Linked DNA regions of Homo sapiens: region 1 is reported to be linked to region 2. Evidence: microRNA targets listed by miRTarBase, many of them from high-throughput screens and not tested one by one. Region 2 holds a microRNA gene; the other region holds the end of a gene's coding sequence.
Evidence for each region. Region 2 holds the annotated microRNA hsa-miR-4698 (UCAAAAUGUAGAGGAAGACCCCA, at 4,064-4,086, shown strand). A microRNA usually pairs through its seed, bases 2 to 8, with sites in the 3' UTR of a target mRNA and lowers its output. Matches are read on the target gene's strand: a 7mer-m8 pairs with bases 2 to 8, a 7mer-A1 pairs with bases 2 to 7 and ends in A, and an 8mer does both.

Region 1: the mRNA of ELMOD2 is a reported target of hsa-miR-4698. Seed matches in the 3' UTR shown: 7mer-m8 at 995-1,001 and 7mer-m8 at 4,311-4,317.

What each region holds. Positions count from the first base shown.
Region 1 is chr4:140,549,411-140,557,128 of GRCh38, forward strand. It overlaps ELMOD2 (ELMO domain containing 2), which reads left to right. Exons shown (of 9, transcript NM_153702.4): 9 at 820-4,360. The coding sequence ends at 965. Among named protein-coding and RNA genes, the nearest start is that of UCP1, 16 kb to the right of the region's middle.
Region 2 is chr12:47,183,797-47,192,256 of GRCh38, forward strand. MIR4698 (microRNA 4698) reads left to right here and starts at 4,016; the gene lies at 4,016-4,095. All of the region lies in intron 2 of PCED1B (PC-esterase domain containing 1B), which reads left to right.

The DNA of each region.
Region 1 (7,718 bases), not on the chromosome of region 2:
ACATTTTGGGGGTTAATTTGGCTACCATAATGAGGATATTGAAAGCCAAAAATATTAAGCCGATTTAGAGTGGATGTATTTTTTTAAAAAAGAGAAGATGCTGATAGTTCATTGAAAAAAAAGTAGAAATAACTCTTAGATTTAGAAATCGAGTAGGAAATAACTTTCCTACACTTTAACCTTATCCAACATTTTTTCGTTACTTGCATTTTTGTGCTTTGGAAGTTTCTCGGGAAACTTTTCTCAAGGTATCTTTTGAAAGTACTACATCTTTTTTTTTTTTTTTTTTTTTTTTTTTTTTGAGATAGGTTCTCAACCAAGCTGGAATGCAGTGGTACAATCACGGCTCACTGAAGCCCTGACCTCCTGGGCTCAAGTGATACCTTTACCTCAGCCTCCCAAGTAGCTGGGACAATAGGCGCATGCCACCATGCCTGGCTAATTTTTGTGTTTGTTGCAGAGATGGGGTTTCACCATGTTGCCCAGGCTGGTCTCTTAAGTCCTGGCCTCAAGCGATCTGCCCACCTAAGTCTCTGAAAGTGCTGAGAGTTCAGGTATGAGTCACTGCTCCCAGGTGAAAGTACTATATCTTTTAAACTTGAGGGACGTTGTTGATTTTTGAGACAAATAGTAAATATACACTAAATCGTTTATTAAGTCTTATTAAGTCCCTCAGGCTTCTAATAGTTTTGAGATTACTTTTGATTATTGTATTCTAATATGGAATTTAAAGGATGGTTATATACTTTGTAAAGATGAGACGGTTTGAATGTGATTTCAACATTGAGGATTAAATGTTTTGTTTTTCTTTAACTGCAGGTTATCTTGTCTATGAATTTGACAAGTTTTGGTTTGAAGAAGAACCAGAAAGCATTATGTATTTCAATTTGTATAGAGAGAAGTTTCATGAAAAGATTAAAGGACTTTTACTGGATTGTAATGTAGCACTTACTTTAAAAGTATAAATCATCCACTGTATCTTCTATTTCTACCACATTTTGCACATTCAACAGAATTTATATGTTGTAATAGGAATTATCTGATCAATTACACTCTTATATATAATTTCCTACAAAAATATTTCAGAAATTCTATTTAAGAAAGCTAGTGGACAATCAGTGTATGTTTACAATTGTTTATACACTGTTCTCCAAAGGTACCTTATCCTTCCAAAGATCCCCTCTGTAGAGTCATGCGAACTACAGTTTGGAACTTGGGACTTAGCCCGTTGGTGTAAAAGTATAAATCAGGTATTTGTATTAAATTGATTAAAATGTGTAAAATCAATTTTCGTTTTTATGTGTTATAGGGTCAAGTTGGTATCTTTTTCAAAGCTCTTTAAGATTTTTTTGGTTTTTAGTTTGGAAATGGCTGTTTTTAATTTTGTCTGATTTTTATTTCTAGGTTAATTAACAGCAAGTGTTTCTTTATGGTTTTCTTTGTTTGCATCTTAATTACATGTCATAACGTTGCTTCATTAGTAGCAAATAGAGCAGAGATACAGCAGAGAGAATAAAGAATTAGGGCCTCCTTTTGGGTTTCTGTGATTATTGAGCATAACTGATGAGAGAATGACAGTATTGGTGACTAGCTTTTTTGTTTTTAAATAACACACTTTAAAATGCCACAGTGTTATTTGAAAGCTTAAAGGCATTTTCTCATCTTCAGTATTTGCTTTTTATCAGTTGTAGAAAAGAACCTTAGTGTTTTCTTCTCTACCTATGTATGCTTATGAAACCGCTCTACCTACATATGAAACTTCTCTACCTATGTATGTTTACGAAAAGAGATGTATTTGCCAAGAAAATCTTGATTATATAAAAGACAAAAAGATTATAAAAGACAGTTTCTGTTTAAGTAAAACTGTCTTTGAAACTTAAGAAAGCTTAAGTTTTAAAAAAATCTCAGTTAAACATCATTGGTTTATTTGACTTACTGTTAACTCTTGCTTCTCTTTGACTCCATGGTGTTTTTAGATAACCATGTATGAACTTTATGTTAATGGTTTGTGGGATACTAAAATAGCTTGAAGATGACTTGATGACTGTGCATTTTATATAGTTTTATTCTCCTAAAATCTCAGGAGGGCAGCAAGTGCTGTCAACGATTATATAGTGATGAGATTTTTATGGGAATGATTTCTTCTTGGTGCGTTTTACACATTTGTACTGATAGCAAAACTAAAGTTTAAAGCAGCAAAGTTTAAGTTCTCCTTAAATCCTACAGAAACCAACCTTTTAAGGACATAATTTCATCTAAAACATGACGATATTTAGCACACCTTTTAATGTGGGTATATATCAAGTGTTTAAGGACTGGCTAGTATGTGATAGAGCAAGACCTGAGACTTTATAAGTATTTGCTCGTGTCTGTTGACAGACCTCTTTCTTTCAAACTTGTTAGAAGAGTGGTAAGACATATCCAATTGGAAAATAAGATGCAGTGTTGTATAGCACATACATTTAAAGTGCTTGCGTTAAAATTAGTTTCTCAATAAGATAAAATTATTTTAAAAATTTGGTTCACTTTATTACAATAGTGGCAATTTAGCTTTTCAGTATTACAGGAATTTAAAAATTGGTTTCTTGTAGGGGACATCTCAACTTTGGGAATATCTTCACTTAATTTTTAAAAAATATTTTCATGCTTTATTGTCCAGCTATACAATATGTCGCAAAATCCTGACAAGTTCATTGTATTAAGGTATTAACTATTACATGGAAAGCAATTCTGTTCATCTTTTGATGTTTGTGTTGAAAATGCTTATCTTTGTGTTTTGATCTTCCAACAGCTGAGAGCTTGAACTGATTTAAACATTTGTCAATATACTTAAGAATGCTTTAAGTAAAGAAGGGGAAAATTTTAAGTAAGTTTTTTCCCTTCTAGGAAGAAAAACTATGATGATGTTAAGAAAATGTCATTATAGAGCTTGCTCAATAATATGTTCTTTAAATCCACCTCCATTTGTACATTATAGGTATCATTCTGTTTTTGCTTAAAATAATCTGCAACCATTTCAGATAGTTTTACAGCAAATTGATCTAAAAGCCACTAATAAATTCTAGGGTTTGAGTCTAGAAGCCAAGCAAACTGTCACCAATGTCAGTTGTAAATTAGAATGCAACATGAGGCTTCAGACTCATGACAATGATATACATGAAAACAAAAATATAATTGTGTCTACCTTCCTACTTTCCCTTTTGACATATGTAGTTGGAATTTTACATAGTCTTAAAATCCATATTTAGAATCTTACCTGTTTCTATAATAATTAGTAAAATGCCAAAGTAGTGATAGAATATTGTGGCATTGAAGTAGCCGAAAAATTGTTAGTTTTAGCATCAAAAAAGTAAATAGATGTTGAAATGAATTTTTGTATGTGCCAGGTTGAAGAGAGTGTGCCAGTGACAGGAAGTAGTCTAAAAAATTAACAGTTATGGTTTTAATAGGATCTGAAAGACAATCTTTAAAGAAATGGGAGAAATTGGGGGTATCAGTGAACCTATACCAACCTCTCTTTGTACATAAATATGGTGATGTAGCTAGATATAAAAATCAGTGTCTTACTGGCACCATTTACAGTTTAGAAAACAATCTTTTTCTTAAAAATGCCCATCTGATTTCTATTTTTAGGAGCTACTTGGATTTGTATGTATTTTTTCTACGTGAAAATATATGTACTCTTCACTTTTGTTCCAGTACTATAATTGCTCATGCACTCTTTCTCCCCTTTGAGAACATTCAGTGAAATACAACTTCATCAAAGATTTGCTCAAAGGAGAAGAATCGCATGAGTGTGAAAAGTAGATGCTCGTAGCCAGAACAGAAAAGGTTACACATGATCATGGCACAGAAGATAGGAGGTTTGACTTGGTGGGCCATAATGTTTATTATCCTTTTTGAAATAACAGGGACCAGCAGCAGTTTTCTCAGGATAAATGCTCTACCCCACTTCTCTATGAACAGGTGTGGGGAGGCTTACTTTCCATTTTCATATTTATACACCTCTCTACAAAAGCAATTTTTAATGAAGGTTAGTGGAATTGTTAAAAATCTGAGAGGAATGATGACTGGAGGTGTTTGGGGTTTTTTTCTGTATTCATTTTTTAATGAGAAAAGTTTTAAATGTAGTACAGGTTAGACCCAACTACTACCTTACTATTATAGGACGATTCTATGTTTCTGTTAAAGTATTCAAGTAGCTTTCTCTGGGGGAAAAAGTACCACTTGGACACTTAAAGGAATTGGGATTTTTGTCTACTTTGGATAAGGCAGTTGACTTCTTAAGTAAAAGCAATAGTGTAAAATGTCATTTTGTTTGGAATGTTAAGTGAGCAAATAAAAAACATGTTGAAATTGTTGTAAGCCTTCCTGTTGATACTTCTTTTTTTCCATATTCCCTCATTTAGTCATTCATGCTCATTAAACATTTTTCTTATTTTTCTTATCGTGTTGCTGTAGGTAAATCAGAATATACAGAAAAAAGTTTTGATTTTCTTGACTTGTTAACTGCTGATTACCTATTTACAGTGTTGAATGAGAAACAAGTGGTTATGAGACTGAAAATTTCCTTTATTTAAAAAGATGCCACCACCTCCACCTGCCCCTTCTTACAAAGAGTAGGAATAATTCATGCTAAACTGCGCTGTTTTATTCTTAACTTTACGTAAAAGTTCTATTATCCATCATAAAGTGGATCTATTTACATGTTAATACATCATTTTTTTACAGCTGCATAGCATTTCTGTGTGCGTGTGTGTGTGTGTATGTGTGTATATCTTACTTTGAAATAAAAATAGGTGGATCTGGTTGGATAAGGCTACGTTAATATGTTAGTACTAACTTTATTAAAGTTAGTGCTAATTATAGGTTTAAATATACGTATATATTCGAAAATAGGCTGGAAATTAAAGACAAAACATCCATCTTAAGGAGTTTGATGAAGAACACAATAAACGTAAAGAAAATAGACAAAGAAATATTAAAGAATTAAAGATAAGTGCTTAAAATGCATAGAATAGAAAACAAGCATATGAGATCAACAGAAATAAGCTTTTGCTTGGAAAGACTAGTATTGATAAACTTGATACTAGTTAAGAATAAAAGAGAAAGCAATAATGTCAATGAAATATGGGACATCACTACAAATTCTACAGATGGTGAAAATTAATTTTTTCAAAAATTTGAAAATTTTAATGAAATACAAAAATTTCTAGAAAAATACAGCTTACCAAAACTGTACAAGGAAGGGGGAAAGTCCTAGCCCTATTAAACTGAATTAGCAATTCAAACCCTTTCCACTAAAAACTGCAGTTCTATATGGCTTGCATCAGTGAGCTGAATGACACACTAAGGAGTAAAATCGCTTTTCACAAACTCTTGCAAATGATAGAGTGTAGACTGCAATTCATGAGACTATCATAACCTTGATGACTAAAACTCAACAAGAACAGTGTGAAAAAAAATTGTATGCCAATGTCACTTTAGATGCAATAATTATAAACAAAATGTTAGCATACTGAATCTGGAAGCTTACTAAATATATTAATGACCTGCATATATAGATATATTGCTTTAATATGTGATCAATTATGGCTCAGTTCAGTTGATCACCAGAATAAAACTAAGTAATTTTTCATATTAACATTTGAAAATCATGATGGTCTTAGATGCAGAAAAAACATTTGATAAAAATTCACCACTTATGTTTAAAAAATAGTAAATGAGAAATAGTGATTAATTTTATAAAGTATATCCTTATAAACTACAACAAATACACTTAACAGTAAAACATTGGAATCAAATTTAGAAAGACTGGAGACCTATGGAGCAGTTTGATGCAGATCATTTCCCTCTAGGGACAGACCATTAATGAGAAAAATAAATGCTTTGACTCTATAGATTGCATTAAATCTGTAAGATAAATGTGAAAACAGTTTTTTCCAATCTGAGAGTATGTTATATACCTATATAGTTTTAAAAAATATTTCAATAGAATTATAGCCTTCATAGTGATACCACACATCTTTTGTTATACTTATTCCCAGGTACTATTTTAAAATGCTTTTTTTTTTTGAGACAGAGTCTTGCTCTGTCACCCAGGCTGGAGTGCAATGGCGCCATCTCGGCTCACTGTAACCTCTGCCTCCTGGGTTCAAGTGATTCTCCTGCCTCAGCCTCCCGAATAACTCGGATTACAGGTGCCCGCCACCATGAGCAGCTAAAATTTTTGTATTTTTAGTAGAGACAGGTTTTCACCATGTTGGCCAGGCTGGTCTCGAACTCCTGACGTCAGGTGATCCACCTGCCTCCGTCTCCCAAAGTGCTGGGATTACAGGCATGAGCCACCACACCCGGCCTAAAATGCTTTTATATAATACATTTTTACAGCTTTATTTTCTAACTTCCTTTTGCTGGTATATAGAAATATAGGTATATAGACTTTTTAATATTGGTTTTATTAGCCACGTTGCCAAACTCATATATGCCAATTCTTTTGGATTTTCCGTGTCTACATTCATATCACTCGTGAGCAGTAACTTTTATTTCTTTCCATCCATTTATTTGTCTTACTGCACTAGCTAGGACTTCTAGTACCATGTTGAATAGATGTGCTGTGCCAGTTTGGATTTATTCAGCAAATATTCAGTCCTCTCCGTTTCCCAATAACGAGTGCATTTCCTTGCTCCTTGATGTTAGGCTTGACCATGTGACTTGCCAAGATCAATGGAATGTTAGTGGACATAAGCAAAGGCTTGAAATAGGTTTGAGCAATTGGGCTTATTCTTGCGCCTCTGCCATCACCATGAAAAAGAGCATGCCTCAGTTTGTCCATGGGTACCAGATGAATCAGAGCCACATGGAGTTGATCAGAACTGGTCAAAAACCCATGGCCTGAATTTAAAGGCCAACTGAATTCAGCTAAGATTAGCACAGCTGCCTAACTAGCCTACTGTTGTGTGAATTCTAAATTTGTAATATTGGTCAAAAGATGCACACATAAAACATACTGGATGATTCCATTTATATGAAGTTTAAAAATAGACAAGCCATATAATTTAGGGATGTATACTTAAATAGTGAATCCATATAAAAACACGCGGAAAACCATTTACCATGAAAGCGAAGTTAAGATGGTCTCAAGTTGTGATCCCGTGGGTGGAGGTGGTTCTGCAGTGCTTGCAATTTTCTGTTTCTTGAGCTCCACTTTGGTTACCTGTTAGTTCACTTTGTAATAATACATTAAAATATTCATTTGCTTTATGCACTTTCATGTATGTGGGTTATATTCCACAATGAAAATTTTCCAATTTTAACAAATGAAGACAAAAAGAAGCAAGAATGATTTGTAGACTTTATATCTTACCTTGTTTCAAGTAACGGCTTGCCTTGTTAAACAAGGAACAGATTGTGGTTATTGCCACTTACTTTGCATGAAAAAGAAAAACTTTGTGGTGATTCTTAGGCCTGTAGGGGCTTTCCCCCGACAGTTGTGTCCCTATCAGATGAGCTCACTTAGGCTGTTATCAAAGCACTTGGTAAATCCCCAGGTACCATCTGATACCAGATTGATTCCCTTATATTTCCTTCTGTATGGGGGCAGAGCCTATGCTTGCTTTATGTACCACTGTGTAGTATGCACAGTGTCTAGAGCATAGCAGATCCTCAAATATCTTCTGATGACTGACATTTCTCTGTACCAGGAATTGGCCAACTTG
Region 2 (8,460 bases):
TAAACTTTTTTTTATGTTTTAATAGACTTTGATTCCTTCAGTGTTCTGATAACTACAGAATCTCTGATCATGACTCCAAGGAAGACAAGGGCCCCCGCACCAGTTGGTGCTATGCTAGGCAGTGGGGATACTGCATGAACAGAACAGATATGGTTCCTGCTGAGGCAGAGCTGACATTTTATTGAGGAAAATAGACCATTAGGTACTTAAACCAGCAATAGAGAGAATATTTTTCTTTTTCTTCTTTTCTTTTTCTTTTTTGTAGAGAAAGGGTCTCCCTATGTTGCCTAGGCTGGTCTTGAACTCCTGGGCTAAAGCGATTCTCCCACCTTGGCCCTCCCAAAGTGCTGGGATTGCACCGCACCAGGCCAAGAATATTTTCCATTGTAAATGTATAAATTAGTAAATGAAGTTTACCTCAATCCCATGTGTGTTTTAGTTGGTGTGAGCTGTACCTTGCATGCTTACCCTCTGGCTACTTGCAAGAGGCAGGCTGGAGACAGTGGTGTGCTGGTAAACGACCAGCTGGGGAAGGGGAGGTGGTTTGATTTATAGCATTTGCAGATTTCCATGATGCAAATACTCCCGCCACATTGGATTTCAAACCATCCAGGTGATGCCAAGTAGCTTCCTGGAAATTTAACCATCTGCTCTCGGTAACTGCTGCCAGCAGCTCCAGCACACACCACTGGTTCTAGCCCTTCAAAGCAAGTTTAGCTAGCATTCTTCTCATCACAGACTTTTGAGTTTCACAAGCTAAGTAAAAGAATTTTTAAAAATTAGAGAAAGACTTTCTGAAATCTTTTTTCTTCCCTTCCTTCCTTCCTTTTTCCCTTCCCTTTTTCCTTCCTTCTTTTACCAAAGACACTAAAAAAAAAAAAAAATTACAATCTACAAATACCGTCATTTCATAAAAGAAAGGATATTTTAATTTTTTAAAAGTGGGAATAACATAATTTCAGAACAAAGATTAGTCCTTTAAATTTAATGAATCCAGATCTATGAAAATTTTATTACCTTACTTATTTTTCTAATTTTATTATGAACTAGGGAAAGTTTTGTGTATGCATTGGAATGTTTTTGGCTACAGGTGAAAGAAACCTGGCAGAGGTTAAGTAACCTGGAGTTATTTTTCTTACCTAGCAAGAGGTCTAGAGGTGAGTGGTTGCTGGCAGTAGTTCAACTGTGTAGTAATGCTGTCAGACTCCTTCTTTTTCCCTAGCTTTCCTTTCCACCAGCTTTAGCTTGTAAACTTGTTTCCTCATGTTTGTAGCCTCATAGTCACAAGATGTTGCTGCATCTCCAGGTAGATGAAAGGCAGGAGCAAAAGGCCTTTATATGGATTGAACTGTGTCCCCAAAAAAGATATGTTGATATCCTAACCCAGATACCTGCAAATGTGGCCTTATTTGGAATGCAAATGTAATTAGTTAAGATGAGGTCATATTGAACCAGGGTGGGCCCTAATCCAATAACTGATGTCCTTACAAAAAGAAAAAACAGAGACAGACACAAGAAGAGAACGCTATGTGAAGGCAGAGACACACACAGAGGGAAGACAGCCCTGTGAAGAAGGAGGCAGAAGTTGAAGTATTGAAGCTGCAAGCCGAGGAATGCCAAGTATTGCTGGTGTAGGAGAGGAAAATAATTACCTTTTCTGTACCCATCCTAGGTTCTCCAGCTAGGGAAAATTAGACTGCATATTAGAGTGGCCCGGCACGGTGGCTCACACCTGTAATCCCAGCACTTTGGAAGGCTGACGGGGGTGGATCACTTAAGGCCAGCAGTTCGAGACCAGCCTGGCCAACATGTTGAAACCCCATCTCTACTGAAAATACAAAGATTAGCTGGGCTTGGTGGCAGGCACCTGTAATCCCAACTATGCAGGAGGCTGAGGCAGCAGAACTGCTTGAACCTGGGAGGTGGAGGTTGCAGTGAGCTGAAATCGTGGTACTACTACTCCAGCTTGGGCAACAGCAGAGCTAGACTCAGTCTCAAAAAAAAAAAAAGACTGTATATTAGACTGACAAAAGACAGATTAACAAGAGAAAAACAAACAAGTTTATTGAAATATGCATTGCACATACACATAGGAGTATTCAGTAATAAGTAATTCAAAGGAGTGGTTAGAACTTGAACTTAGTCTGGTGCAGTGGCTCACACCTGTAATCCCAGCACTTTGGGAGGCCAAGGTGGGCGGATCACGAGGTCAAGAGTTTGAGACCAGCCTGACCAACATGGTGAAACCCCATCTCTACTAAAAATAACAAAATTAGCCAGATGTGGTGGCACGCCCCTGTAATCCCAGCTACTCAGGAGACTGAGGCAGGAGAACTGCTTGAACCCAGGGGGCAGGGGTTGCAGTGAGCCAAGATCGCGCCCCTGCACTCCAGCCTGGGTGACAGAGTGAGACTCCGTCTAAAAAAAAAGAAAAAAAAAAAGAACTTGAACTTACATAGAATTGAGCAAAGAACAATAATTTTGTAGAGAAGTGGCAAGACAAAGGAAAATGACTTTGAGCTTCTAGGGGCAGCAAATTGTGGGAAGGCAAATATATGGGGAAACTTATGGTAGATGAGGGCTAGTTAATACGTTTTGTTTTTGTAGATTCCTCTGGATGACATCTTGTCTCCAGTGATAAGGTGTTGTCCCTTTATGTTATCCCTTTACTGGTAGGGGGGTAGAGGGGGGCACTTTCACAAGGGGAGCTTATGTTCTGTTTTCAGGCAGATAGGAGGCGGACAGAGATCTCATCCTGGGTCTGCTTTTTCTCAGTTGCCTTCAAGTCAAAATAATCCATATGCCAGAGTGGCATATTGTGGGGTGGCATAATCCAAACCCCTTCATTGGCAAGCATCAGAAGCCAGGAAGAGACAAGAAAAGGTTTTTTCCCCTACAGCTTTCAGAAGGAGCATGGCCCTGCTGACACCTTATTTCAGTCTGAGGGCCTTCAGAATTGTGAGATACTACATTTCTGTTGTAATCTACCCAGTTTGTGATACTTCGTGATGGCAGCCCAAGGAAATTAACACAGCACAAAATCTTGTCTTTACTTAGGATATCTCCAGCTGATTTCTTTTTATATCCTATTGGCCAGAACAAGGTCAAATGCCCAAACCAAGAACAACCAATTGATAAAGGGAAGGAGATTTCCATGACTGGTTAGGCCTATCCTGGAGTCGGGGACCACTCTCCTTGGAAGCAAAGATCTCTCCTTACCACCTGAACACACTGAAAGAAGGGAAAATGGCTCTTGGGGAGGTAGTGGGTAGTGCCTATCACACTTGAAGGTGGACCACTGTGCTGCTCTGTGGACTTTAGAAATGCTGCCCTACTTAACAGTGTTTGAGATTCATCTCAAAACAGATCTTTACCTTCTCCAGAAGCACTCAGGAGTTTAGGTGAAAGATCCAGGTGGATAGCTCCAGGGTAAGAAGTTAGAAATGCTGACACTATGTGAGAGATAGTGTTCATAGGGAGAGACCATGGGATCTTACCTAAAACCAAGAAATGGGTGGTAAATGTAGTGAAAAGGAAGCACCAGGAAATTGGAAATCTCAGGGAGGAGAAAAGGCAGGTGAAATGATCTGGTACTGATGAAAATCCCCCATCTCTACATCAAGGGGATTATTAACTCAGTTTCAAAAATAGAGAACAAGAGAGAAAAAGAGAAACAGGGATGCTGTTTTAACTATAGGCAGCAGTATATAGTAAGACATATTTTTAATCTTTTATCAGTGAAAGTGTAAACAGTTAAATCCAGCACTAAATAATAAATGTGTCAATATTTTAAAATATATTTTTTCATAGCTAAAATTAGAACTAAACATGCTAATGAACTCAGCACCAAGGGCTGGAGGTGATGGAGAGAACATTTCATCTCCCAGGCAACTCCCAACTCTGCAAGTTCTAGAATTCCTAAACATTAAATTTTCTTCATTGAAGACATATTTGGGAACTATAGCTTCATCATAAGGCAGCCAAGTCTTGTGATATATGGGTTAAAGGAAAGTTATGCTTCTCCTGGGGTCTTCCTCTACATTTCCACCTAGACGGGCCTGGGTCAAAATGTAGAGGAAGACCCCAGAAGGAGCAAAACTTTCACCTGCGCCTCTTCCACCTGGGTCTGTCCTTTATCCTACCAGCTCCAAGAACAGGATTGTAATTGGTCACCTGATCTACCTGCATCTTCCTGACTGCAACAAGTTCTTTGCCCTATAGCTGCTTTATTTCCACAGTTTGTCTTACCTGGAAGCACCTCTTCCTTCTTGGAGTCCCTTCTGTTCCCCAGACATACCTCTGTCATGGCACCATAGCATTTTGTGGCTTTTAAAAATTACATGTCTTATCTCCCCTTACTAAGGACTTTGGGGACAGTGATCTTGCCTTAGTTGTCTTTGGGTTCCCAGCATCTAACACCATTGGGGTCTCTTAAATGTTGGATGAATAAATAAATTATTAAAGGCTAATCTCAGGGGGGAATAGAATATGTCATAAATTCCTCAGCTGGAACTCATAGGGATCAATGATGTCCCACACAAAAGCCCTATAGGGACAAGAATTCAGGAAGGGTGTTAGCTGCAAATCTTCCTGGCCTATGGAGAAGCATGGAATATACTGTGAGCCATATATGTCCCTGAAGCTAATCTAATCTATCTCAATGAAATTATATGCTTAGGTATTGTCATCTCAGTTTCTAATGTGTAACTTTTGCTTTCCTTGGAAATTGAAAGGATTTGAGCCATTTCTTAGGTAGTTTCAGGACGATACTGCTTCTCAGAGTTAAGGACTTCCTTTTTTCAATGTGTACCTGAACATCCAGAAGTTAAAAACAAGAGTAGCAGAGTCTTGCAGATGCAAACATAGTACAGAAGTTCTCATCCATCGCCCAAATTGAAACGTGCAATGTAAGCTGTAGCCATCCAGTTCCACTGCAGTGCTGGAGCAGAGGAGCAAGGGAGTTGGGATGAATGTGAAGAACTCAGAGGACCATTGGGAGCATATTCATTTCACTCATTCTCCGTAAAAAACAGGCATGTTGCTGGTAACCTGGACTTTTTCCAACCCTGGCTACACAGTTGCTGGATTTAGGTGCCAGACTCCTGTTGCTTCTTATTGCAAAATGCCCCCACATGGCATTTTGCCCCATTTTCATTTCTGCTTCTGATTAGGTCACTGTGAACTTTCTCTCCATGTTTACTCAAAGTACCAGAAATATGTAGGGACAGCCTCCACTTATCTCGAGATTTCCTGCTGTTCATGATTCAGCTCACTTTGCTGTTCTTTTTCATTTCCTCTATCTTACATTTTGATTGTTTTTTATCTTCTTTTTCTTCAGCTTTATTGCTTGTTTCATTGGTTCTTAGCCCAGTGTCTGAAAGTGACCCTGAGAAGTTGTCTAAGCAGAAAAGCATGCATTGTGTTTTTAGATTGTTCAAGACAGGGCCGCCATTACCCCATTGGATGCCTTTGTGCAAAGTGGAAAAATGTGTCCTTTTCTCTGAGGAGATGCAGCCCTACACTAGGGTGCATGGCTTGGTTAGCAGAAGGCAGACTGATTTCAAAATCCAGTCTATTGTGCATTCTTGTGCCGTGAATGGAGAGGTGCAGCCCTGTTTAGAGAAGAGCCTGTAATCTTGCTTAAATAAGTCACTACAGCAACTATTATCTCACAGTGAAAATGTTCCTCTTTAAAGGCCGCTAAATAAATGAATGACCTTGGACATACATTTATTTCCTCACTTTTCAGTAGTTTACAAGATCCCTGAACACCATTCAAGGCTTATATTAGTGGCTTTCTGCTACCGCTAACATCAAATCCAAAACACCATGGACTTACTTGCAAGGTCTTATTTGCACTTTCAGCATAGCACCATGGACTTATTAGCACACTTTAGTGTTATATTACCATCTCACACTTGTCTTCATTTCAGCAAACAATTAATAAACATGGACTAGGAGCCAAACTCTTGAAGCACAACTTTCGTTTATCACCAGCTTCGCATTTTCACCTCATCTAACCCTACTAACAAAATGCATATCCTTGAAACTTCCAAACAGAAGACTCTGGGGATGTTTGGCAAAACCTCAGCATAACTTCTGCTGCTCCAGGCTTGGGATCCACAGAAGAGCTGCCTCTTGGGTCAGCTCTTCCAGCCCTGCTCGGCTCCTCCCTTGGCCACTCCCAGTCCCACAGACCCTCCTCTATGCACTGTGCTCAGACACCTGCTTGAAGTGCAGAAACTACTTCAGTATCACTTGAGGGAATCTCTAGGTATAAATTCTACACAGAAGAAAAATGTTAATACTCTATTTGCATAGTGTTTTGTTATTTAGGAAATGCTTTCACATGCATTAGTTCGTGTAATCCTGAGTTGGAATAATCAGCCAAAAAGCAAAAATGCATACAATTCAGTTGTCTCTCAGTCTATCCCACCCCGTTCTTCCCATGGTGCTGGTTGGTTCATAAATGGGAGCAAGTGAAAGCCTGCCCCATTGTGGCCCCAGTTCTGGGCTTCAGTTTCCAAAATAGATACAGACCTCACCCAAGTTCCATCTGTTCTAACCCACTTCCTCCTTGTCCTGGTCTCCAACCTTTGGCACCCATGCATTCACTTTGGTCGCCTCTTCCAGGTCTTTCTTCCTCCAGCTCCCTGCAGGTTAAGGATGAAGTGGTTTCTCTCAATTCCCTTTGTACGAGAAACACAGGGTTCTTTATGCCTACACCAGTTTCAGTGGGAAACCCTCTTTATAGCAGCTATGCAAATCCTGCATCTGGGATACCTGTGACTCATTTACACAGAATCTTGATCCTTTCAAACAACAATAGTAACACTAACTCATGCTTACTGGTTTCTGCGTGGCAGGCATGGCACTCTGTGCTCTCTGCATGTTATCTCATACTGTTGCAGATTTAGGTTGAGTACCTGATGCCAGTAAGCCAAACACTGACACATCAGTGCTTAGGAGCACAGAAAGGTTATTCAAATTGGCTACAGCATGAGGGTGCGAGAGGCACCTCTCAAACCCCACCTGTCTTTGAACATAACTGGGGGGCTTTTACGAGTAAGGTAGATATGTGGGAGGTGAGATTCTCTGATGATGAAAGCTGCTTGTGTCCCTCAGCCAATCGAACTTCTGGATGCCATCAAGGAGGTCTCCATGACCTAAGGATCATTGTTCTTTAAAAGAAAAACCAGTTCATTAATCTTGCAGACAGCCCCTGGGGGTCAGGATATGAAGTTAATCACTTATTAATGACTACCCTCTAACGAAATGACTATGTGCAAGCAAACATGCATGGAGGAAGACAAGGACAAAGAAAGAGGAAGAAGTAAAATGAACATCTTACGATTTTTATAATATAGGCTTGGTGACATCACCTTCCCAACAGACACACAGGGCTACTATGAGTATGCCCATTTACAAATGAGGTTGAATTGAAGCAGTTTTTACAAAGGGACACCACTGACCCTAAAGCCCTGAGCTGTCTGTTTCCAGACTTTTTTCACTCCTTTATCTTCTGCCAGCTTTACGACTCCATACATTTAATTCCTCAGAGACCACTATTTTTGTTTAAAATCTCTAAGTTTCTTCCTAATTCTATACCCCAGTGTCAGCATTCAGCAGTTCTATAAGATCTCAAAAGATTATTTCTCCCAAATCCTCACCTTGACCCTCCCCAGGCAAACGTTCACATGTTCACAACCCAATGCATTCACTTTACTCTCATCCTAGGCAAATTGGGGGAAGTCATGTTTCCATTGCAATCCGGAAGAAGAAATACCGCAGGCCTGCCTCTCTCCACCCAGGACTTGGGCATAGTCATCATCCAGCCTTTGCCCTAAAGCAGAGGTTTTCAGCCCAGGTTGCAAAATAGATTGCCCTGGGAACCTTCATAAAGCTGGACACCTGGGCTGCTCACCCTGAGGAATTGAGGCAGAATCGCTGAGGGTGCGGCCTGGACACAAAAGTTTTGGGGTTTTTTTGGTTTTTTTGTTTTGTTGTGTTGTGCTTTTTTTTTTAAGGACCTGGTGATTCTGATGAGAACCACTTGCCTGCCTTTCTCTTTGCCAATCTGAGTCCATTACCATTTTCTTGAGCTAACTCAGACATCATTTTCTTTAGATACTCTATAGGAGCACCTAACATGGCGCTTGCCACAGAAATGATTGACTGTTTTCTCTCTGTACATCCTCATTAACTCCAACTCAATAGAACACCAATTTAATTTGCCTCCTTTGTATAAATGTATTCAATCCACCCCGTATCACTGTAGAATATCTATACATTGTTCTAGAATTACTGTTTTCTTATTTTATGTGGATCTGGCTTGCTTTAACTATTTCAAAAATGGAGGCTACGCTTTTTTTTTTTGTTTTTTTTTTTTTGCCTCTTTCCATAGTGCCAGCAAAGAGCTTCTAAATCACGACAAACAGTAAATGCATGTTGATTATAAGT